2 separate regions of the Homo sapiens genome follow, and region 2 is linked to region 1. A link means that fine-mapping ties the variant in region 1 to the plasma level of a protein whose gene starts in the linked region. Region 1 holds a variant in brackets. A gene starts in the other region. All regions are shown on their reverse strands. Region 1 overlaps CHST11 (carbohydrate sulfotransferase 11). Region 2 holds the start of ADAMTS13 (ADAM metallopeptidase with thrombospondin type 1 motif 13).

The links. A credible set is the group of variants that fine-mapping cannot tell apart. PIP is the chance, under the fine-mapping model, that this variant and not a neighbour inherited with it causes the effect. Protein levels are from antibody-based Olink assays in UK Biobank. Linkage for the fine-mapping came from a reference panel and not from the study's own genotypes, which makes the PIPs less certain.
Region 2: it holds the start of ADAMTS13, and the variant in region 1 is the best candidate, but not a certain one, in a credible set for the plasma level of the ADAMTS13 protein (UK Biobank, PIP 0.59).

Annotation. Positions count from the first base shown.
Region 1 is chr12:104,565,228-104,580,708 of GRCh38, reverse strand. All of the region lies in intron 1 of CHST11 (carbohydrate sulfotransferase 11), which reads right to left. Among named protein-coding and RNA genes, the nearest start is that of MIR3922, 19 kb to the left of the region's middle. RefSeq lists enhancers at 485-594, 10,650-10,739, 14,483-14,542. The variant CTTAGTA/A (reference allele first, on the strand shown) is at 3,681.
Region 2 is chr9:133,416,250-133,424,249 of GRCh38, reverse strand. ADAMTS13 (ADAM metallopeptidase with thrombospondin type 1 motif 13) reads right to left here and starts at 1,883. Exons shown (of 29, transcript NM_139027.6): 1 at 1,702-1,883; 2 at 1,083-1,149. The coding sequence starts at 1,806. REXO4 (REX4 homolog, 3'-5' exonuclease) reads left to right here and starts at 6,240. Exons shown (of 8, transcript NM_020385.4): 1 at 6,240-6,630. The coding sequence starts at 6,406. RefSeq lists enhancers at 2,129-2,188, 2,309-2,358, 2,589-2,728, 5,926-6,145 and a silencer at 6,256-6,495.

The DNA.
Region 1 (15,481 bases):
GCACCCATTTCTTGACAAAATCCTCCTGGCCCAGCTATATCCTAGAAGTAAATTACAACAAGTAGAGAGAAAAAATTGGGCTCCCAAACTTCCAGGAAGCTTTGCATGGGGCACAATCCTAGCTGTTATAGAGGTTGAAAGTTAAGTTACATATTTTTCTACCATTCTCTGATTGTGTCTGACATACTGAATATTCATTTATTTTGCCTTTAATTTATCCATAATCGACATGTCTACCATGCATGAGGGCTTAAAGCTCCACTGAAATAAATTACATCCCATGGTATTTAGAAACAGGCAGCCTAACATCTAATCTAATTGACCTAATTAACCCTTTTCTTAAATGCCCATGCTTTACTATATCAGCCAGAGCATACAGTGAACGCTTTTGGCTTTATTGTGGCTGAACAATATTAGAAACTTTAGTCAAATCCAGAACCCAATCTTTAGTTTCAATTTCCTTTCGTACTCCAGCTCAAGCCTGAAATCTTCCTTCTTGTAAACAAAAACCACAAAAGATATTCTATCCCCCATTCCCCAAATGTAGGGGGAAAGTCACAAATGATGTCTGGCTTCAATCCCCTAATGAACTAGCTGAAGGGCCTTGAAAGCAAAAAGACGACGCTTTTATTGAAAGTTCAGGCCTTTTTCTTCAAATGTCCATTAGAATAAAAGGGACTGGTAACTTAGGGATGATCTTATGTGATCATTGTCCACAGTCTTCAATTATAAGCAATGATTCTGTGTGCTCCTTGATGACCAAAGCTGGTGGAGAGTACGGTAATTAACCCAGATGATTCAGAAGCAGCAGAGGATCCAATGCATCACTTCTGGTCATCTTGATACTGCTAGACCTTAGACATTTAGCTTTTATCTCCAATTACATTTTGGCTTAAACAGTTATTCAAATTACCTTCCATCTGTGGGATACAAGCTGGTTGGGTGTAGTGGGTCTACACAATTAGAGCGGGCAACAGATTTAAAGCAGGCAATGTGTGGATGTGCCCTCCCCTGCCGGGCTGCTGAGGAATACACCCCGGGGAGAGGGGCGGCGCATCCACACATTGACAAATGAAAGTTACCCACGTTACCATGTATCATTCTCTTGAAATTACATTTGAGATAAAACAGTAAGATAGTAGCCCATTTCTGACATGGGAATGATAATAACGAATGCCTGTTTCATTGTCTGTTCCGACATGTGCTCCACACTCATCTTCAGTGTCCCTCATTTTAAAGATGAGAAATCCAAGGTCAGGGAGGTTAAGTGATGCCCCCAAGGTCACAAGATCAATCGCTGGCATCTCCACTCTATTGATGCAACAAAAATGGAGGCTGGGCAACATCAAGTGACTTGTCCAGGGACAAGAGCAAAGTGGTGGGGCAAAGACTTCAACCCAGGTAAATTGGACCCAAGTCTAGTCTTATTCCCTCTACACAACAACTGCCTCCCACATGAAGGCTAAAAAGAAAGAGCAGATATTCACTGAGCAACCACATGGTACTAGGAGCCCAGGAATGGAGGAGGGGAAACAGACCCAACCCTCGCCAAGCTTAAAGAGCAAGCAGAGCTTCTGCTCTTCTTCAAGCATCTCTCTCTCATTGCTTAAGGGTAACAAGGAAACAGGGGCATGTAACCAAGCCCTTTGATAAGTACCTGGGCACCTTCTCATGGCTTCTTCTGGTCAAAGACAGCATCAAGTTGCTTTTTGTTGCTACTTTGAGTAGGACCAGGCCCAAAATAGGCCCTCAACAAACATTTTGCATTACGTGAGTTAATTAATCCAGCTTTGAAGCTGAGACAACTGCATGTCACAAGAGCCTAACATTTTCCTAGCTTTTACCTGAGAACATGAGGGGTTTGGCTCTCACATGGCAGTCTATCTCCAATTAACACTGTTGGCTTTTCACAGCCTCCTCAAGAATTCCTATCTCTCTATCTCCAATTAACACTGTTGGCTTTTGCCTCCTCAAGAATTCCTGTCTCAGAGAGCTTGCTGAGCGCTTTCCATGGCTTACATGTGAATCACTTTTCACACTGCAAGGACAGTGACTAAATAGTATCAGACAGGACTTAGGGATTCTGGGACAGAATAAACCACGCCAGAAAGCCGATGACTCAATTCTCCACTTTTCAACTCGTGCTGTCATCCCAGAGAGACAGCCAACGGACCCAGCGCTCTCATCACAATAGAGGCAGGGGGTTCTGAAAATGCAACCAGAAAGATAAAGATCTTAGGAAAGACACTCAAACAGAAAGATCTGCTCAGAGCCAAAGATTGATTCTACCCAAATGCAGGAAAAGAAAAATGGAGAAGTCACCAAATCTATAAATGATTTTCGGAAGAATATTCAATTCAGGAAAACTTATCGTTAGGTGTATTATATTACAAGGCATCTAGTTCAACGGAACTCGGGGTTCAACGACTGGGAAGATCCGAGCAGTGGCAAGTCAATGGGTCTGGAGACCAGGAAGTCAGTGATGGGCTGAGATCCTAACCAGCGATGTGACCTCAGGTCAGAACCACCCCCTGTTGCTGGGTCTTGATATCCTCATCTATAAATAAGGGGGGATTTAGTCTATATAAGATTCCTTCCGGCTGCAAAATTCACTACTTCTGCACCTCCCAGTCCACTCCCTTCTACCGCTGTGAAGTTCACCAAAATTCCACTGGCACCGTGCTCCAGCCCTGAACAGGCTGGCTTTTGTGGACTTCCCTCAGTGCATGGTAACCACAGAAATAAACCCAAATACACCAAAAAATGTAAAGGGGTCGTGAGTGCTGTTGTACTTATGAAGTCAGCAGTGTGAAATGTATAACAAGATTGTCTACAGATCTTTTGTTGACACGTGGTAAGAAAAATCTCCTCTTCAGTATAAAAAGGCCCATTTGTTTGGTTCTCAACCAGATCGGTCTTGAGTCAGCGGCATTTGAAACTGGAGCCCCAGTCATAACTGTGGGCTGCCCTTACCCGACACACACATAGGAGGAAAATTTGGATTTTTCACAGATATCCTCTATTCTGCCATGGGAGCCTAGGAAAGCAGGGGAAGTTGCCCTTGGCATTGACCAGACAATGAACTCATCATCCTGCTTCACCCAGAAATAGAAATGAAGTGTTAAACGTAGCTCACTAGTGTCTGCCTCAGCATTACAGACTGAAGTTAAGTTGCCTAAGAAAGTACAGAGTGGGAATGCTTACTTAATCCATGATAATGTAGCCTACCACCCCGATAATCCCACCACCCCACTGTCATCTGAAAGCACTTATTAAGCACCTAGTGTGTACACAGCCCTTCTTTCCTGGAGTGTTCCAAAAAGAGCTCTCAAGTTTGGGCTGCATGAACACAACGTGAATGTACTTCATGCCACTGAACTGTACACTAAAAATGGTTAAAATGGTAAATTTTATGTTATGTGTATTTTACCATTTTCTTAAATACCAAAAAAAAAAAAAAAAAAAAAAAAAAAATGAAGGGCTGCAGCCCTCAGATACACGAATCATACCGGTGCAAAACAGAAACACTCTGTCAGGCAGATATTTCCAGCACGTCCCCAAAGTGTCTGGGGCTGCTGATAATAACCTTTGCCCTGGCCCTGAGTGACCATGGTCTTTTGTTGAAGCACCCCACCTGGAGCCTTAGACTGAACCCACAGTCATTTCCACCCCTCTGGAGT[CTTAGTA/A]CCGAGGTCCAGGGATTCTCCAATATGAATGTTCCTGGCACCCTCACCCCTGCAATGCCACCACCCTGAATGTCTTCCTCAGAGCACTGTCCCCACCCGACATGGCCTCATCCCTGTCCCCAGTTCCTCCTCCATCCCTTAATGGCAACATGAATGTTGGAGGAACGTGAATGTCCCTCAGCGCAGCCTGGAGTGGTGTCAATGCAGATTCCTAGGCCCCCAAAATCCAGATCCGGATTCAATAGGCCTATCTCGAGGCCCAGAAATCTGCCCTTTTAAACACATTCCAGGTGATTTTTAAGGATTTGGGAATGATTTAAAGGCCCTGGCTAAATGGAAGTGGGTGGTTGACCAAATGCAGCCTTCTCCTGGGCTTTGGAAATGACCAGAGACTGCAGCCATGGGAGGTGCTCCCAGCTCTTGCTCTCCAGTTCAGAGCTCTTCTCTGAAGAACTTCTCTGAAGAGTCCGTTGCTCTTTTCCAAGTTCTGTGAGGCCCCTGACCAAGTCCTTGAACAAGTAACAGGCTCATATATATGGTTCTGCCACCTTTCCCTTTCTAGTGGACGGTCACCCGGAACCAGAACTCCCAGATTCCAGGCCCAGCCCTCCACCACACATTTTGCATCACTGCACCTCAGTCTTCCCCTCTGCAAAATGGGCCTGCTAATACCTGCCCTGGCTTCCGCTAGGCCCACTGTGTCAGGGATTCCAGCCCCTGTTCTTCCAAGCGTGTGACCTTGGGCTCCTTAGGTTTCACCTCTCTGGGTCTCAGCTTCCACATCTTGAAAGCAGGAATAAACACAGTACTTAGTTCATAGAGTTCCTGGGAGGACACAGTAGGCTAAGGCAAGAAAAGCTCTCCTGCCACTGAGAAGCACAGTGAATACTTAACGTGAACCACCATCACGCCTGTGAGTAAGTTGACATGGATATACTGTACTTGGGAGGGAACAGGCATAAGAGAGAACAGTTCTCACACTTCTATTTTAGAGACCAAAGCTCATGCACACATGCCACCCACCCACCCGAGGGCCATGGTTTGTAATCACAGGGTGGGTGGCATTCGTGCATGAGCTTTGGTTTCTAACAATAGAAGACAAGAATGAATTTTGAAGAAGCTAACCCTTTTATTTACAATGTTGAGTTCCTCTACTCCCCAGGCAGAGACCAAGGAATACCCCGATAAGCAATTTCTGAGCACTGCCGAAGTAGGAAAGGGCAGGACGGGCCCTTCTGACGAAGCAGTGGCCTCCAAACCTGTTGCCTGCAGAACAGCCTCCTTCAGAAGAGGACCACTCTGTGGCTCGGCATCCTTTACCCTGACAGCTGGCTCATGCAGGCCAGGCTGCAACCTGCACTCCACCCAACCCCACAGAACAGCACCTGCTGGCCACTCAGCAGCTCACTCAGAACACACCCAGGAAACTTCCTTCAAACGGACAGATGTTCCTGCTCCCAGGCCTTTCTTTGCCTATCAGTTGTCTAAGTTAAGACCCCCTTCACCCGGATTATCACAGAGGACTCGCAGAGGCCTTCCTGGCACCCTCATCCCTGCAATGCCACTACCTTTCATGTCTTCCTCAGAGCACTGTCCCCACCTGACATGGCCTCATCCCTGTCCCCAGTTCCTCCTGCATCCCTTAATGGCAAGCTCCTGGGGCCTTTTCTGTTCATAGCAAGAACACTGTCTGGCACACAGCAGACACTCAGAAAATACTTGTTTACTGGATTGTGTATCCTGTTTAGGGCAAACACAAAGCCCCGTCACCCTGGGATCATCCCAGTTTATGCCTGTGGGCCTGTGGTCCTACACTCTTTTTTTTTTTTTGAGACAGGATCTCACTCTGTAACTCAGGCTGGGGTGCAGTGGCACAGTCTCGGCTCACTGCAACCTCTGCCTCCTGGGTTCAAGTAATTCTTGTGCCTCAGCCTCCTGAGTAGCTGGAATTGCAGGTGCATGCCACCACGCCGGCTCATTTCTTTGTATTTTCAGTAAAGATGGGGTTTCATCATGTTGGCCAGGCTGGTCTTGAACTAGTGAACTCAAATGATTCACCTGCCTTGGCCTCCCAAAGACCTGGGATTACAGGCATGAGTCACCACGCCCGGCCTCTACAGTCATTTTTAATAGTTCCTTTTTCTTTCTTTTTTTCTTTTTTTTTAATTATACTTTAAGTTTTAGGGTACATGTGCACAATGTACAGGTTTGTTACATAGGCATACATGTGCCATGTTGGTGTGCTGCACCCATTAACTCGTCATTTACATTAGGTATATCTCCTAATGCTATCCCTCCCCCAACCCCCACCCCACAACAGACCCCAGTGTGTGATGTTCCCCTTCCTGTGTTCAAGTGTTCTCATTGTTCAATTCCCACCTATGAGTGAGAACATGCGGTGTTTGGTTTTTTGTCCTTGCGATAGTTTGCTGAGAATGATGGTTTCCAGCTTCATCCATGTCCCTACAAAGGACATGAACTCATCATTTTTTATGGCTGCATAGTATTCCATGGTGTATATGTGCCACATTTTCTTAATCCAGTCTATCATTGTTGGACATTTGGGTTGGCTCCAAGTCTTTCCTATTGCGAATAGTGCCACAATTAACATGTGTGCATGTGTCTTTATAGCAGCATGATTTATAATCCTTTGGGTATATACCCAGTAATGGGATGGCTGGGTCAAATGGTATTTCTAGTTCTAGATCCCTGAGGAATCGCCACACTGACTTCCACAATGGTTGAACTAGTTTACACTCCCACCAACAGTGTAAAAGTGTTCCTATTTCTCCACATCCTCTCCAGCACCTGTTGTTTCCGGACTTTTTAATGATTGCCATTCTAACTGGTGTGAGATGGTATCTCACTGTGGTTTTGATTTGCATTTCTCTGATGGCCAGTGATGATGAGCATTTTTTCATGTGTCTTTTGGCTGCATAAATGTCTTCTTTTGAGAAGTGTCTGTTCATATCCTTCGCCCACTTGTTGACGGGGTTGTTTGTTTTTTTCTTGTAAATTCGTTTGAGTTCATTGTAGATTCTGGATATTAGCCCTCTGTCAGATGAGTAGATTGCAAAAATTTTCTCCCATTCTGTAGGTTGCCTGTTCACTCTGATAGTAGTTTCTTTTGCTGTGCAGAAGGTCTTTAGTTTCATTAGATTCCATTTGTCAATTTTGGCTTCTGTTCCCATTGCTTTTGGTGTTTTAGACATGAAGTCTTTGCCTGTGCCTATGTCCTAAATGGTATTGCCTAGGTTTTCTTCTAGGGTTTTTATGGTTTTAGGTCTAACATTTAAGTCTTTAATCCATCTTGAATTAATTTTTGTATAAGGTGTAAGGAAGGGATCCAGTTTTAGCTTTCTACATGTGGCTAGCCAGTTTTCCCAGCACCATTTATTAAATAGGGAATCATTTCCTCATTTCTTGCTTTTGTCAGGTTTGTCAAAGATCAGATAGTTGTAGATGTATGGCATTATTTCTGAGGGCTCTGTTCTGTTCCATTGGTCTATATCTCTGTTTTGGTACCAGCACCATGCTGTTTTGGTTACTGTAGCCTTGTAGTATAGTTTGAAGTCAGGTAGCGTGATGCCTCCAGCTTTGTTCTTTTGGCTTAGGATTGACTTGGCAATGCGGGCTCTTTTTTGGTTCCATATGAACTTTAAAGTAGTTTTTTCCAATTCTGTGAAGAAAGTCATTGGTAGCTTGATGGGGATGGCACTGAATCTATAACTTACCTTGGGCAGTATGGCCATTTTCACGATATTGATTCTTCCTATCCATGAGCATGGAATGTTCTTCCATTTGTTTGTATCCTCTTTTATTTCATTGAGCAGCGGTTTGTAGTTCTCCTTGAAGAGGTCCTTCACATCCTTGTAAGTTGGATTCCTAGGTATTTTATTCTCTTTGAAGCAATTGTGAATGGGAGTTCACTCATGATTTGGCTCTCTGTCTGTTATTGGTGTATAAGAATGCTTGTGATTTTTGCACATTGATTTTGTATCCTGAGACTTTGCTGAAGTTGCCTATCAGCTTAAGGAGATTTTGGGCTGAGACGATGGGGTTTTCTAGATATACAATCATGTCATCTGCAAACAGGGACAATTTGACTTCCTCTTTTCCTAATTGAATACCCTTTATTTCCTTCTCCTGCCTGATTGCCCTGGCCAGAACTTCCAACACTATGTTGAATAGCAATAAAGATCTAAAACTGACACCCTAACATCACAATTAAAAAGTAGAGAAGCAAGAGCAAACACATTCAAAAGCTAGCAGAAGGCAAGAAATACCTAAGATCAGAGCAGAACTGAAGGAGACAGAGACACAAAAAAACCTTCAAAAGATCAATGAATCCAGGAGCTAGTTTTTTTAAAAAGATCAACAAAATTGATAGACTGCTACCAAGACTAATAAAGAAGAAAAGAGAGAAGAATCAAATAGATGCAATAAAAAATGATAAAGGGGATATCACCACCGATCCCACAGAAATACACACTATCATCAGAGAATACTATAAACACCTCTATGCAAGTAAACTAGAAATTCTAGAAGAAATGGATAAATTCCTTGACACATACACCTTCCCAAGACTAAACCAGGAAGAAGTTGAATCTCTGAATAGACCAATAACAGGCTCTGAAATTGAGGCAATACTTAATAGCTTACCAACCAAAAAAAGTCCAGGACCAGACGGATTCACAGCCGAATTCTACCAGAGGTACAAGGAGGAGCTGGTACCATTCCTTCTGAAACTATTCCAATCAATAGAAAAAGAGGGAATCCTCCCTAACTCATTTTATGAGGCCAGCATCATCCTGATACCAAAGCCTGGCAGAGACACAACAAAAAAAGAGAATTTTAGACCAATATCCCTGATGAACATCGATGCAAAAATCCTCAATAAAATACTGGCAAACCGAATCCAGCAGCACATCAAAAAGCTTATCCACCATGATCAAGTGGGCTTCATCCCTGGGATGCAAGGCTGGTTCAACATATGCAAATCAATAAACATAATCCAGCATATAAACAGAACCAACGACAAAAACCACATGATTATCTGAATAGATGCAGAAAAGGCCTTTGACAAAATTCAACAACCCTTCATGCTAAAAACTCTCAATAAACTAGGTATTGATGGGACGTATCTCAAAATAATAAGAGCTATCTATGACAAACCCACAGCCAATATCATACTGAATGATCAAAAACTGGAAGCAGTCCCTTTGAAAACCGGCACAAGACAGGGATGCCCTCTGTCACCACTCCTAATAGCTCCTTTTTCTAGTCTAACCAGTGGCTGGATTTGATAATACATCTTGCACTGTTTTGATGAGAGGTGATACGGTCCAGGGGTTAGGAGCCAGAAAGGTCTGGAGTCAGACAAACTTCATCATCAGACCTGAGCTGCCACTTCCTCTTGTGTGGTGATCCTCACAAGCCATGACCCTCTCTGATCAAAGTGTCCACAGCACTTCAGGAGACTGAAAGCCTGTGTCTACAAGCACTGACAAGTGGGACGCTGGAGGCGTTCAGTCAACATTGTTCTTAATAATATTGTCTGTCGCCGGGTGCAGGACTCAGACCTGTAATCCCAGCACTTTGGGAGGCCGAAGCGGGCGGATCACCTGAGGTCAGGAGATCAAGACCAGCCTGACCAACAGGGGGAAACCCCATCTCTACTAAAAATACAAAATTAGCCAGGCATGGTGGCACATGCCAGTAATCCCGGCTACTTGGGAGGCTGAAGTGGGAGAATCGCTTGAACCCAGGAGGCAGAGGTTGCAGTAAGCTGAGATCGGGCCATTGCACTCCAGCCTGGGCAATAAGAGCAAAACTCCATCTCAAAAAAAAAAAAAAAATTGTCTGTCCTCCAAAGACAAACTACTGAGTCCACCACCTGCTAGCTATGTGACCTCAGCTGATTAACTTATCCTCTCTGCCATTTTCTCATCTCCAAGATGAAAACAAGAATTCCTACGTTCCAGGCTGGTTTTGAGAATTATTAGATGATATCATTCAGGAAAAGCACAGTGCGCTGGGTGAGGTGGCTCACGCCTGTAATTCCAGCACTTTGGGAGGCCAAGGTGGGTGGATCACCAGCAGTCAGGAGTTCGAGACCAGCCTGGTCAACATGGCGAAACTCCGTCTCTACTAAAAATACAAAAAATAGCCGGGTGTGGTGACAGGCGCCTGTAATCCCAGCTACTCAGGAGGCTGAGGCAGGAGATTCACTTGCACTTGGGAGGGAGAGACTGCAGTGAGCAGAGATCACGCCACTGCACTCTAGCCTGGGTGACAGAGCGAGACTCAGTCTCAAAAAAAAAAAAAAAGTGCAGTGGCTTACATATACTGAAACTGAATAAATGGTAGCAATTGTTAATACTGTTGCTATTCCTTCTAAATTCCCGAGTTGCTTGAAGGCAAGAATCTTGTGTATCCACTTCTGTATCCCTAATACTAAATGCCTGGCACATTTTCTTGCAGGAAGGAAAGGAGTAGGCTTCTTCCTGAGGTCCTGCCATGCTCATCCCCAGTGAGCTTGGTTCCTGATTTCAGAGAGAGGCATAGATGGGACACCAAGAAGGCACGTGGCTTGGGTGGGCTGCACAGTGCTGAAAGGTGGAAAGAGGATCTGCTGGAGTGTGGAAGGTTTACAGACGGTAAAATCTGCAGCTGCTCACACACCTACTAGTGGGAGGGGGAGGCTTGCGAAATGTTAAAAATGAGTCGATTTTCTCATATACAACAAGAACAACAACGAAGACAGTGAGGAAAAGAGGAATAAACAAGGTGTGGGTGGAGAAAAACAGGTACCTGAGCCTGGCTCTTGTGAAACAGAACCCTTTAGGAGTAGAGGTGGGGTGGGGAGGGCAGTCACTGGTTTAATACAGATCCTCCCAAATAGGCTGGATCACAGCCGAGCTTACAGATGCTCACTTTGGACTCCTCTGACACCACCAGAGAGATCAAACCCCAGGATATGTTGGTTTTGTAGGTTGTCAGACACGTCAAGACCACTAACTGTTTCTATCAGAATGTAGAAATGTTGCAGACCGTGGAGGGGGCTGTTCAGATGGCCCAGCACTCTGACCGCATGCAAAGGAAGTTCCTTTCGCAACCCGTCCTCTTCCTCCAACTGTAAAGTAAGATTATGAAGCAGAATCAAGAGCCTACACTGAACCTCAAAAGGGAAAGCCCAGGGTTGGGGACTCCCAGTGCAGCATGGTCAATGGTGCCACCCCAATACCACCTGCACCAACATCACCTTCAATAGCAGGACTTATTCCCCTGTGGCTCCATAAACTGGGCAGATCAATGGAGAAGGTGCAGCCTGAAAACCCTGGAGGCATCCCCTAGAATCTGGGCCCCAAATTCCTAGCTTGGAATCTCCCCCACTTCATTATGTTCTTACCCCAGGCATAACAGTTCTGCTGCTGATCAATCCAATAGGTCTGCTGTACCTAAGAGCTATGATGCACTCAGCCACAGAGCTCTGTGTGATGAAGATGCAAAATGGACTCAGACATCCTCTGAGCTCTTCCCCTAAGTTTTGAAGGTAACTGCTCAGGACAGAAAACTGAGATTGTAAGAGACACTGGTCTCGAAGTGAACTGTCCACAAATCCTGAGGATCGTTCCTTTGAACAAATGTATCTGGTTGTTTTTGTTGTGTGCATTTTTTTATTCAGAATATAAAATATTCTGAAAAGCTATGGAGTCTCACAAACTGAGCTCTAGTAACTAAGACGGTAACTCCAGGAGGGTTCTCTATTCCTAGAATTTCTTCCGTCAGAATAACCAAGTTGAGAGGTTTGTCAAATTTTGTTTCATAAGCTAGTAGTTTCACTTTTATTTAGAATCTAGAGCCAGACAATTGGGTTCCAGTCCTGTCACATCCTGGCTCTGTGACCGTGGATACTAACCCTCTCCATGCCTCAGTTTTCTCCTCTGCAAAATGGGGATGAAAATAATAATACTTACCTCTCAGGAGTGTTGTGGGGATTAATGAGCTAATACATGAGAGCAACTAGAAGAGTACCTGGCATACTCTTAGGTACTTTATTCAGTCAGTATTTAATAAATGTCGCTACATACATAGACTGTCTTAAAGAGCTAATGACCTACTTTTATTTTTAAAGATCTCCAATGGTAGGTTTCAACTTTTAGTTTAGAAATACAGAGGCAGTATAAAATAGTGGTTAAGAACATGAACTATAAAGCCATATTGCCTGGGATTGGATCCCAGCTCTGCCCCTTTTTCACTGTGTTAATTTGGTCAAGTTACTTAACCTCTCTGAGCTTTAGTTTCCTTATCTGTAAAATGGAGATAATACTGCCTGCAGGTTTAAGTGAGTTGATAAATACAAGCCACATTATAGATAATAGTAGAGATGACAGGTGCCGCTGTCATTGTATCTCTAGGGGAGGTCCCATCAGCAGCTCCCATGATCACATTTGTAAAATGCCAAGATGCCATTCAAAGTCCCAGGAAGCAACTAGGCAGCCAGCCATTCTCTTCCCATCTCAGCTCTGTTGGAAGTTGCTGACCTACAGCTCATCAGTAAATGTGTACCAAGCAGAAATCAATTAAAATCAGCCACACTTGCTGCTGCAGTCTCCTCTGTTCCCATCCCATGGCAGGGCTGAGGGCTAAGGAGGCAGACAGAGGAGCTGTTGCAAGGACAGTGGGAGGGGGGCCACTGGCACAGTACCTCTTGCTGCTCCATGGCAACGGTAGCTGCTAGACAGCAGAGCAGCAACAACACACTGCAGCAAGAGAGGAAAGTCTGACTCCTCTCGCCAGGCAAAGCACCAGGCCATTCACAAGGCCAGAAGACAGGAAGACCCCGGCCCTAAACAGCAGCCCTGATCATGGGACCCAGCCCAACCTCTGACTCCTGGCATAGAAAAACAACACACATACGAGTCCTTCCTCCAGGCTCACCTGCCCTGGGAAGCCACAAATCCACAGACAAACTTGGTATCTCTGTCTTAGTCTACTCCTGCTGCTATAACAAAATATCCTAGACTAAGGAATTTATCAATGTATTGCTCACAGTTCTGGAGGCTGGGAAGTCCAAGATCAAAGCAATAGCAGATTCGGTGTCTGGCAAGGCACCAAACAGTGATGCCTTCTGTGTCTTCACATGGCAGAGGGGTGAAGAGGCTCCCTCAGGCCTCTTTTATAAGGGCACTAATTCCATTCATGAAGGCAGAGCCCTCAAGACCTAATCACCTCCCAATACTATTGCATTAGGGATTAGGTTTCAACACTTGAATTTGTGGGGGGTACACAAACATTCAGACCATGGCAACCTCTAAACTTTGCACACAGCTCATGGGCTGTGTGACCCTGGATCCTTGCTCAACATTGTCAGGTACACAGGAAAAAATTCACAGGAGAGCTCATGCTAGGTGGAGCTGTGAGGCTCTCACTGGGGACAGAATTAAGTGTTTCAACAGGAATGGAACTAGAGGTACTTTGGGCAGGCAGCAGAGGGGAAGATTCCTGGAGAAGGGAGCTGGATCTTAAAGGACAAAAGGAAATAAAGGAAGAGGCAGGGAGAGAGGGACAGACATAAGCCTCATAAAACATCCACCCAGGGAACACCTTTCTACCCAAAAAGAAACTAATCATTTCAAACAAATGTTTCTCTACCCTCTAGGAAAGGATTGCATTTTCTGCCAGATCTGATTGAAGCAGGCAGATATTTTGTAACTGCACCTCCTTGCCTAGCAAAAAATGTTCCAACTTGTCAGTCATCCTCCATCTCAGGTGCATTCTGCCTGCTCCAGGTGATGTGGCCCATCTGACACATGCAGCTCATTTTCCCAAATATTCCTGCAGCTCAAACTGGCAAGCGTAAGGGATACACTACTTTGTCAGTGTGATAGTGTACTCCATTCTTTAGAGACAGCAACAAGTTTTGCAAATTGGTCCTGATAAAGAACCTCAGATTTAAATGTATTGGGCGGGAGGTGTTCCATCAGGAACAATTTGCAAAACTTGCCAACATAAAATTTACATATACATGTGTGTGTATATATATTTATATTCATTCACCTTACAAGAAGACTGCCTTACACTAGATACTTAAGTCTCTGGGTCTCAATTTCTATAACTATAAAAGTATATATTTTCTCAGGCTCAGGCACTATGGGGAAAAGATTCTAAGGTTCCATTCAGGTTCAGCACAGAGAAAGGTGCTGGGATCCATTAGTGATGTCTGCCGTACTCACACTAGGGGAACATGGGAGGTGTATGTACCTGTAGGTGTTTGTAATTTCCCGAACAGAGGGTAATTTCGACTTTCTAAAGACCTATTCTTTCAAACATTCTGAGCATTGAGTTATAAAGGCCACACTCATGGGTTCAAAGGAGTCCCTCTGCTGCAAAGAGAGGAAAAAGGCTGTCTGTGTTGAGAAGATCCCTCCAGAACCCACCCTCACAATCCCTGAGAGCACACCCCACAGGTCCTCAGGTGAAAGTCACAAAGTTGCTCCTCTGCCAGGACCTGTGGGGATGGAGGACTATCTCCCAGCATGAGAAACCAAGCGTTTTTGTTCAGCTGTTGAGTCACAGTAACTCCTGTGTGAGTCTAAAATTATTTCCATTATGAGTGGCTTTCATTTTGTAGGCAGACCGCCCCCCCACCCCAACCGCTAGATGCAATTTAGAAGAAAGAGCAGAGAAAGGAGAATTTCACACAAGTGACAATAAGGACTGGAATAGACTTTGAGATAGGGCTTAGGGGAAAGAACAGAGAAAGAAGTAATTTATGGGGGACCATAAAGCCTCAAAACCTCTCAGTGAAGAATATTCTAGATTCCCATTAGAGCAGTGACACTGAGGCACAGAGTCATCAGGTTAACTCTCATGAACATCACACGGCCAGAGAATGGCTTCCAAGCCCTTGTTTTTTGCATGCCACAGTCATGCTGCCTGGACATACTCCAGAAGGCTGAGTGTGTCCAGAGAATCTAGAACATTCACAGGCCTAGGAATGGAGGCAAAAGGGGAAGCACAAAGGAGTGAGAATGTGGCTGCCACACAGACCATCCCTGCTCTCCCAAGAAACGTGGTAAGCACACGCCTGCAGGTTCTGTCCCAACTTCTCAGCAACCATAGCCATTTCCCTGTGGCAAACACAGGGAGAAAGTGGTACACAGTGTTCCTTTCTCTCTAAGAGGTGAGCCAGAAGTCTGCCCAATTTCAAGGGCCTGCTGAGAAGAACAACAGAGCACCCTAATTAGCCCAGGTTTCCTAACAACTATGCTGGCGATGCCGGAGCCGCACAAATCCCCTGGGTCTCCTCATCCTGGAGCATTTGTTCTGTCTCTTACTCCCTGCCCCGCTGCCTGAAGACTCCTCAAATACTGGTGATAGAGCGTCTTAGTGCTGGGGGCCTCCTGAGCCATGGGTTAATACTCAGGTAGACAATTTACAAAAGTCCTAGAGGCCAGGCACAGTGGTTTATGCCTGTAATCCCAGCACTTTGGGAGGCCGAGGCAGGTGGATCACTTGAGGTCAGGAGTTCGAGACCAGCCTGGCCAACATGGTGAAACCCCGCCTCTACTAAAAATACAGAAATTAGCCCAGCATGGTGGCACGTACCTGTAGTCCCAGCTACTCGGGAGGCTGAGGCAGGAGAATCGCTTGAACCTGGGAGGTGGAGGTTACAGTGAGCCAAGATCATGCCACTGCACTCCAGCCTGAGCAACAGAATGAGACACTGTCTCCAAAAAAAAAAAAAAAAAAAAAAAAATCCTAGAAAACATGGAGGCTGCCCAGGTGGT
Region 2 (8,000 bases), not on the chromosome of region 1:
GCTGGCAGGTCTTGGAAGGATGGCCTTCCGAAGTCAAGACATTGCGTGTCACCCCCACCCCAAGAGCCAGACCCCATTAGTGACTAGGCACGCAAAGGGCAGGGCCCAGGAGGAGCTGTTGGGCTATTGTGTGCTTTGGGTCACCCCATCAAGACAAGATTCCCACTGCCCTGGTGGCTCTGCCCAAAGGGGAAAGCCCCTGCCCTGCCTCCTGGACCCTGCTCTGGGCACAGGTGTTTCACAAGTAACATCATGGACCCCGACAGGAAACTGAACACGAGTGGAGCCCAGTGGTCTCTTGGGAAGCAGGGGCCCAGGCCAGCCCTCACTGTCCTCTCCCAAGGGAGCCCTTAGAGGGTCAGGGACCCTGGGCAATGATCTCCCAGCCTTTCAGGAGCGGCAGCGCTGGAAGGACCCAGGCTATGGGATACCCAGACAGCGTCGGCTGCATCCAGCCCCCAGCGTGGCCCCAGGCACTGGTCAGTGTGCCTCTGGCCTAGACCACAAAGAACCAGGTCACAAAGTGGGCCTTGCCCTCCTGTTGCCCCTGACCACTAGCCCACCTGCCTCTGGCCCCCATCAGCCATTAGTCAAGTTGCCAATGGCCCTACTGGGAAGGGGGCTCGCACCGGAGAAGGTCACAGACATGGGCCTGTGGGCAATGGGGACAGGCCTTTATCATAAGGAAATCCATGGCCTTAGGAGGTAGCCTGAGCCAGTACCTATCTTGTTTCCCACAGAAGGAATAAATATTTACATCCACGGTCAGAAACCACAAGAGCTCCTGAAAATCAGCCAGCTCAGCAGAGGCCATGGGGCAGGAGGGGCCAGCCAATCGGTGACCGTTCCCTTGTGATATTTAACAGAAGCTAGGGTGAGAACCCTGGCCTGGCTGGAACACCCAGACCAGCTTATATCAACTTGGCAGGAAGTAACAGAGTTAATTAACAGGGTTGACAGCAGCTTCTCTGACCTTCTCCTTCCAGATCCACCAAAAATCCCAGACCACTGACTCAGTGGTGAGATACCCCTTGAAAGTCCTGAGAAACTCCCCCCGGGAGAGAAGACACCAGGACAAGTACCTTTTAAGGGAGCACCAGGGCTCAAGTAAGAAGACACGGCCTGTGGCTCCAAAGCCTGAAGACAACTCTGCAAGACAAAAAGAGATGGATGGGGCCGGGCATAGTGGCTCTGGCCTGTAATCCTAACACTTGGGGAGACCGAGGTGGGAGGATCACTTGAGTCCAGGAGTTTGAGACCAGCTGGGGCAACATAACAAGACCCCATGTCTTAAAAAAAAAAAAAAAAAAAAAAAGAGAGAGAGAGAAAGAAAAAAGAACAAAAAGAGATGGATGAAGAGGGAGACAGGAGGCAGGAGGTGGGTGAGGCCAACCAAGAAGGAGAGGGGGAAATCAGAGACAGGGAGAGGAAGGGAGAGGCAGAGAAGAGCAACCTACACAGTTTGGGACAAACTAGTATCTGTCTGTTCAGCTTCACCGAATGAGCAGGTCGTACTGAGACACCAACTCCCTCTTCAGTGAGCACACTTCATCCCCCAAAGCCCCAAGTACAGACTCCCCTGCCCAGCGCAAACCCCAAAGCTGATGTAGTCAGCTATTTGGCACTCCCCTCGCCCCAGGTAGCTCAGAATACCCCACCCAGAGGCTCCCAGAATACCCCCGCTCCTGCAAATGAGCCCACCTGCTGGAAATGGGAGGGTCCCCAGCAGCCCAGGAGAAAGCCACAGGCAAGGATTCCGGCCACACAGAGGGGAGGGCATCTTGCCCGGGGGTGACGCTGGTGCATCCTCAGGAGAGCCAGCCCGAGGAGTGGAGCGGAGTGAGAGGGGGCCTTGGTGACTGGGAATCTGGTCAGTATGGAATGGGACAGGCCTGCTCACTACTGGGCGGGACGATTAGGCAGTGTTTACTCTTGGAAGCTTCCTGCCAGGGCAGGGGCCGTGGCTAGGGTGGGCGGCCTGCAGCTCCTCCTGCTGCAAGCTGGGCCTTGCTCTAAGATGGTTGCAGTTCAGGGTAACCTGCAGCCCAGTCCTGCACACCAGACAGCTCTCCGGATGTGCACGCCCACCCCCTTAGAGGAGGCCTAAGCCATCTAATCTGGAGAAGGGACACTGGACCAGAAACCCACAGACGGGGGTTCACAAGGAATGCCAGGACCTCGGCTGACTCCCTCTCCGGGGTCCCCGCTCCCATCTGACAGATGAGAGGCTGTGCCAAAGACATCGTGGTTCTGGCTCAACTCTCCACCTACTCTGTGCCTGCGCCTGATGAGGAGAGTCGCAGAAGCAGGCTGCACGGCACCAGATCTCAGCATCATCACAAACGGCCTGGCAATCCCCTTCATCTCCTGGAAGACTCACTTCACATGCTCCAAACCACTCTTTTACACCCACAGAGCCGCACAAGCTGATGACCAGCAGGGGGATTCACCTTGTCTTTCCACCCCTCAAAGTGCAGCCTCTCTCCTCCTCTGCGATCAGGGAGGACACACCTACACTTCCTGCCAGGCCCTGGCTCTGGATCCCTTCCCAGCTCTCTCCTCCTGCATCGTTAGTTTCTGCCCCTCTGCTAGAGCCATTCATTCATTCCTTCAGCCAACAAATGTTTCACTGAGCCCCTGAAACAGGCCAGGCTCTGTGCTAGACACCAGGAAAGCAGCCCCAAGCCAGGCAGACAGCAGCCTCGGCCTCTCACAGCTTAAATTCTAGGGAAGAGAGCCAGACAGCAAAGTTGCTAGACAGACACATGTTGTATATGTAGTATGTTCAAAGGTGGTAAGTGTTATGGAGAAAAATACAGCAGAATAAAGGAATGGGGGACTGGAGGGAAGGGTGTGCTTTCATGCAGGAAGGTAAGGAGGCTGTTGGAGAAGGGGGCATGCTTAGATATCGAGATCCTGGTACCTGGCTCACTCCATCAGCATGAATGACTCTCCTGTCTCTTTTTGGTTTTTGTTTGTTTTTTGAGACAGAGTCTTGCTGTGTCACCCAGGCTGGAGTGCAGTGGCACGATCTCGGCTCACTGCAACCTCCGCCACCCAGGTTCAAGTGATTCTCCTGCCTCAGCCTCCCTTGTGGCTGGGATTACAGGCACCCGCCATCACGCCTGGCTAGTTTTTGTATTTTTAGTAGAGGTGGGGTTTCGCCATGTTGGCCAAGCTGGTCTCAAACTCCTGACCTCAGGTGAGCTGACTGCCTCGGCCTCCCAAAGTGCTGGGATTACAGGCATGAGCCACCAAGCCCAGACACTCTGGTGTCTCTTGATTACAATCAACAACCTTCCCTTGACCCACACTGTCCTCCTGCCATAGCCCTGTTTCTGGCTGTCTTTAAGAACTTAGAAACATTATTTTCAGTGGCTATCTCCACTTCCTTGCCTTCAATTCCCACATACCATTGAAATTGATCTTTAAAAGGTCACCAATAACTTTGTGAACCCTGAAAGAGCCAATCCTTCTTGATGGATCCCAAGTTACTAACTGGGCCTAAATTCAAAGTAGGACCTAGCAGCCATTTGCTGACTAGGGTCACACACACATTCTGCGTTCCTGGAAAGCCCCCACTCTCACTTAACTCTGGGATGGTTTCACAGCTATCTGTTCCTGTTTATGCCGCCAGAATCAACCCATCGACTGTGACCTGCATCGACCAATCTGAACTCAGCAAGTATTAACCAATCAGAACTAAGCAAGTGTGCCTTCCTCATTTGCATAAGTGGACCAAAGTGGGAACCTGGGCAGGAAGTTCTCTACAAAAGACGACCTCTTTCTTTGTTCTCTTTGTTCCCTGGAATGCACCTTTGTACAGAAGGCTGCATTGCCCTGGTTTACAAACTGCTGGAACAAAGTTTTTTTCCTTTTTTAAAAAGAAAACCTGGGCCAGGTGTGGTGGCTCACGCCTTTAATCCCAGCACTTTGGGAGGCCGAGGCAGGTGGATCACGAGGCACGCGGATCATGAGGTCAGGAGTTCGAGATCAGCCTGGCCAGCATAGTGAAACCCCGTCTCTTTTCAAAAATACAAAAATTAGGCTAGGTGCGGTGGCTCACGCCTGTAATCCCAACACTTTGGGAGGCTGAGGCGAGAGGATCACCTGATGTCTGGAGATCCATACCAGCCTGGCCAACATGGAGAAACCCCATCTCTACTAAAAGTACAAAATTAGCCGGGCGTGGTGGCACATGCCTGTAATCCCAGCTACTCGGGAGGCTGAGGCAGAAGAATCACTTGAACCCGGGAGGTGGAGGTTGCGGTGAGCCGAGATTGCGCCATTGCACTCCAGCCTGGGCGACAAGAGCATAACTTCGTCTCAAAAAAAAAAAAAAAATTAGCTGGGCATGGTGGCGTGCACCTGTAGTTCCAGCTACCCAGGAGGCTGAGGCAGGAGAATCGCTTGAACCCGGGAGGTGGAGATTGTGGTGAGCCGATATCACGCCACTGCACTCCAGCCTGGGCAGCAGAGCAAGACTCCGTCTCAAAACAAACAAAAAAAAAGAAAACCCTTTTCGGTGGACTTGCTGACAATCTCAGTGCCATATCTGGTTCCCATCTCTCTGTCCTCGTCCTTCTCAGCCTCTCAGCAGCATCTGATGTGGTTTATTCTCCCCCTGGATTCTCTGATGCCACTCACATCCGCTTCTCCTCCCACTGCACTGACTGCTCCCCCTCAGCCTCCTCTGCTGCTTCGCCCCTGGAGAGCCCCCAGCACCTGCTATCTGGTCTTAACCCTTCACTCCCTATATTGGTACTCTCTCTTTGGATGAACTAACCCAGGTTCATGTTTCAACACTAATTATGTGCTGACGATTTCCAAATTACATCTCCAGCACTGACCCTTCCCTAAGCTTAGGAATCTTATATCCTGCTGCTGATTAGACGTCTCTCCTTGGTGACTGACGGCCCGTTCAAACTCAGCAAGTGTGAAAAGGAGCTCATGGCTCCACCCCCATACTTCACCCTGCTCCCCGCAGACATTTATTGAGATGATAAATGGCCACACCCAATTGCTCAGACCAAAATCCTAGGAGCCTCACTTCCCTGTTACTCCATCAACCTCTGCCTGTTACACACGCACATCAAATCTACCCACTCCCGGCCGGGCACGGTGGCTCACACCTGTAATCCCAGCGCTTTGGGAGGCCGAGGCGGATGGATCACTGGAGGTCAGGAGTTCAAGACAGCCTGGCCAACGTGGCGAAACCCCAGGTCTACTAAAAATACAAAAATTGGCAGAGAGTGGTGGCGTGCACCTATAGTCCCAGCTACTCAGGAGGCTGAGGCAGGAGAATCGCTTGAACCCAGGCGGCAGAAGTAAGGGAGGAGACCACCCCTCATATTGTCTTATGCCCAATTTCTGCTTCCAAATAAAGAAGTAAAAACTAAAAGGCAGAAATAAAATCCACAGGCAGACAGCCCGGCGCCGCGCCCTGGGCCTGGTTAAAGATCAATCCTTGACCTAACCGGTTATGTTATCTATAGATTTCAGACATTGTATGGAAAAGCATTGTGAAAATCCCTGTCCTGTTCTGTTGCGTTCTGATTACCGGTGCATGCAGCCCCCAGTCACGTACCCCCTGCTTGCTCAATCGATCACGACCCTCTCACACAGACCCCCTTAGGGTTGTAAGCCCTTAAAAGGGACAGGAATTGCTCACTCAGAGAGCTCGGTTTTTGGAGACGTGAGTCTGCCGATGCTCCCCACTAAATAAAGCCCTTTCCTTCTACAATTCGGTGTCTGAGGGGTTCTTGTCTGCGGCTCGTCCTGCTACAGAGTGAACTGGCAGGAACTCCTCCCGGTGCCTGGGCCTCAGTTTCCCCACTGTACGTGGAAGATGAGCCGCTGTGAGGCTGAGCAAGGAGCAGCCCAAGGCGGGAAAGGCTCGAGAGTCCAGGACGCAGGCGAGCGACCTAGCCCGGCTCTCACTAGCCCCACCGCCCAGTGCCCCCAGCTCAGCTGCCCTACCAGGTGCTACACACACAGCGGCCCCCCAGTTCCCTTCCGGCGTTCGCATCTCTCATCCCCATCCCGGATCTTGGGGAGGTCCTCGGCTTGCCCCAGTCAAACTCGAGGTCGATGACCCCGGATGCCGCTGGCTAAGGCGGCGGCCCAAGTCCCGTGCGGGTGAACCGCCCAGGCTGCGCGGAACCAGAGGCAGGGATCCGGTTTCCAGCCGGTTGTGGAGAGACGAGCGCTTCCGGGGACTGGAGCGTGCGTGCTGAGGTATGCGCAACGCGTGCGGGGTCTCTTCCGGAGTCTTTTCCTGGACGGGGTCCCTGCGGTGGGTGTGTTTCGGCCTGGCCTGGGCAGGCGCTTGTGCTGCCAGGGCGCCGGGCCCGGGGAGGCCGGGGTCTCGGGTGGCCGCCGGCCCAGGCGCTGGACGGCAGCAGGATGGGGAAGGCGAAGGTCCCCGCCTCCAAGCGCGCCCCGAGCAGCCCCGTGGCTAAGCCGGGTCCTGTCAAGACGCTCACTCGGAAGAAAAACAAGAAGAAAAAAAGGTTTTGGAAAAGCAAGGCGCGGGAAGTAAGCAAGAAGCCAGCAAGCGGCCCCGGTGCTGTGGTGCGACCTCCAAAGGCACCAGAAGACTTTTCTCAAAACTGGAAGGCGCTGCAAGAGGTGAGGCTTGAGGGGGCCCGGGCGGAGCGCTGCGCAGCTCATTCCCGCAGAACGCGACGGAGGGAAAGACTTGGGTAGCCCCAAAAGACCTGTAAAGGCAGATTTGAATCGAAATCTTGTAAACAGCTTTTCACAAGAAAGGTGGCCTGTTGAGGGAGGTCTCGAACTTGTTTGCTTGAAAGAAATTGATGAAAGAATTATTTCAAGTACAAAAAAGCAAAGATAAACCCTTGTACCTTTTGCATAATGAACTAACTAGAATGGATTTTACAAAGAGAAATTTAGCTTAAAATCCCGAAACCAGGCCGGGCGCGGGGCCTCACGCCTGTGATCCCAGCACTTTGGGAGGCCGAGGCGGGCAGATCCCCTGAGGTCAAGAGTTCAAGACCAGCCCGGCCAACATGGTGAAACCCCGTGTCTACTAAAAAAGTACAAAAAATATTAGCCGGGCGTGATGGCGCGCGCCGGTAGTCGCAGCTACTCGGGGAGCCTGAGGCAGAAGAATCGCTTGAACCCGGGAGGCAGAGGCAGTAGTAAGCCGAAATCGCGCCACTGCACTCCAGCCTGGGCGACAGAGCGAGACTCCATCTCAAACAACAACAACGAAAGAACACACTGGTCTGTGTAGCAAGACAGGGAGAAAGAAGATTCCTGTGTAGAAGTGAAAAGCAGATAGCAGACATGTGATGGGGTTCTAGCGACACTTACGGTCTTGAAGTAAATACTAATTGAGCTCCTAAAAATGTGCACTCTGCCATGTGCTCTATGCCATGCGTGTTGCAATCCCCACAATAAGACTGTGAGGTGGACACTTCCATCATCGCTATTGTACAGATGAGGAAATAGGCTGGAAAAGTTTAAATAGATCATCTAAGATTGCGGCTGGGAACCAGGTGGCTGACTCTGGAGTCCATGCTTTTAAGGCTGTGTTGTACCTGCTGTCTCCCTAGTGACCTGCACTTCTGTAGAGGTTGCCTGCTCTCTCCTAGACACTCTTCCACGTGCGTCACTCATACATTCTTACCACATCCCTTGGAGCTCCCTTGGAGCTACCTCCTGTTAGGATCATAGCTCACTGCTGCCTGGGCTCCAGTGATTCTCCTGCCTCAGCCTCCCGAGTAGCCCACACGTGTAATCCCAGCACTTTGGGAGGCCCAGGCAGGAGGATCACTTGAGCTCAGGAGTTCAAGTCCAGCCTGGGCAACATGGTGAGATTCCATCTCTAAATAAAAGTAAAAAGTAGTTTTTTTAAAAAAGAAATGTGATCCCCAGTGGTGGAGATGGGGCCCATAGGAGGTATTGGGTCATGGGGGTAGATCCCTCATGAATGACTTGGTGCCCTCCCCTCAGTAACGAGTAAGTTCTCACTC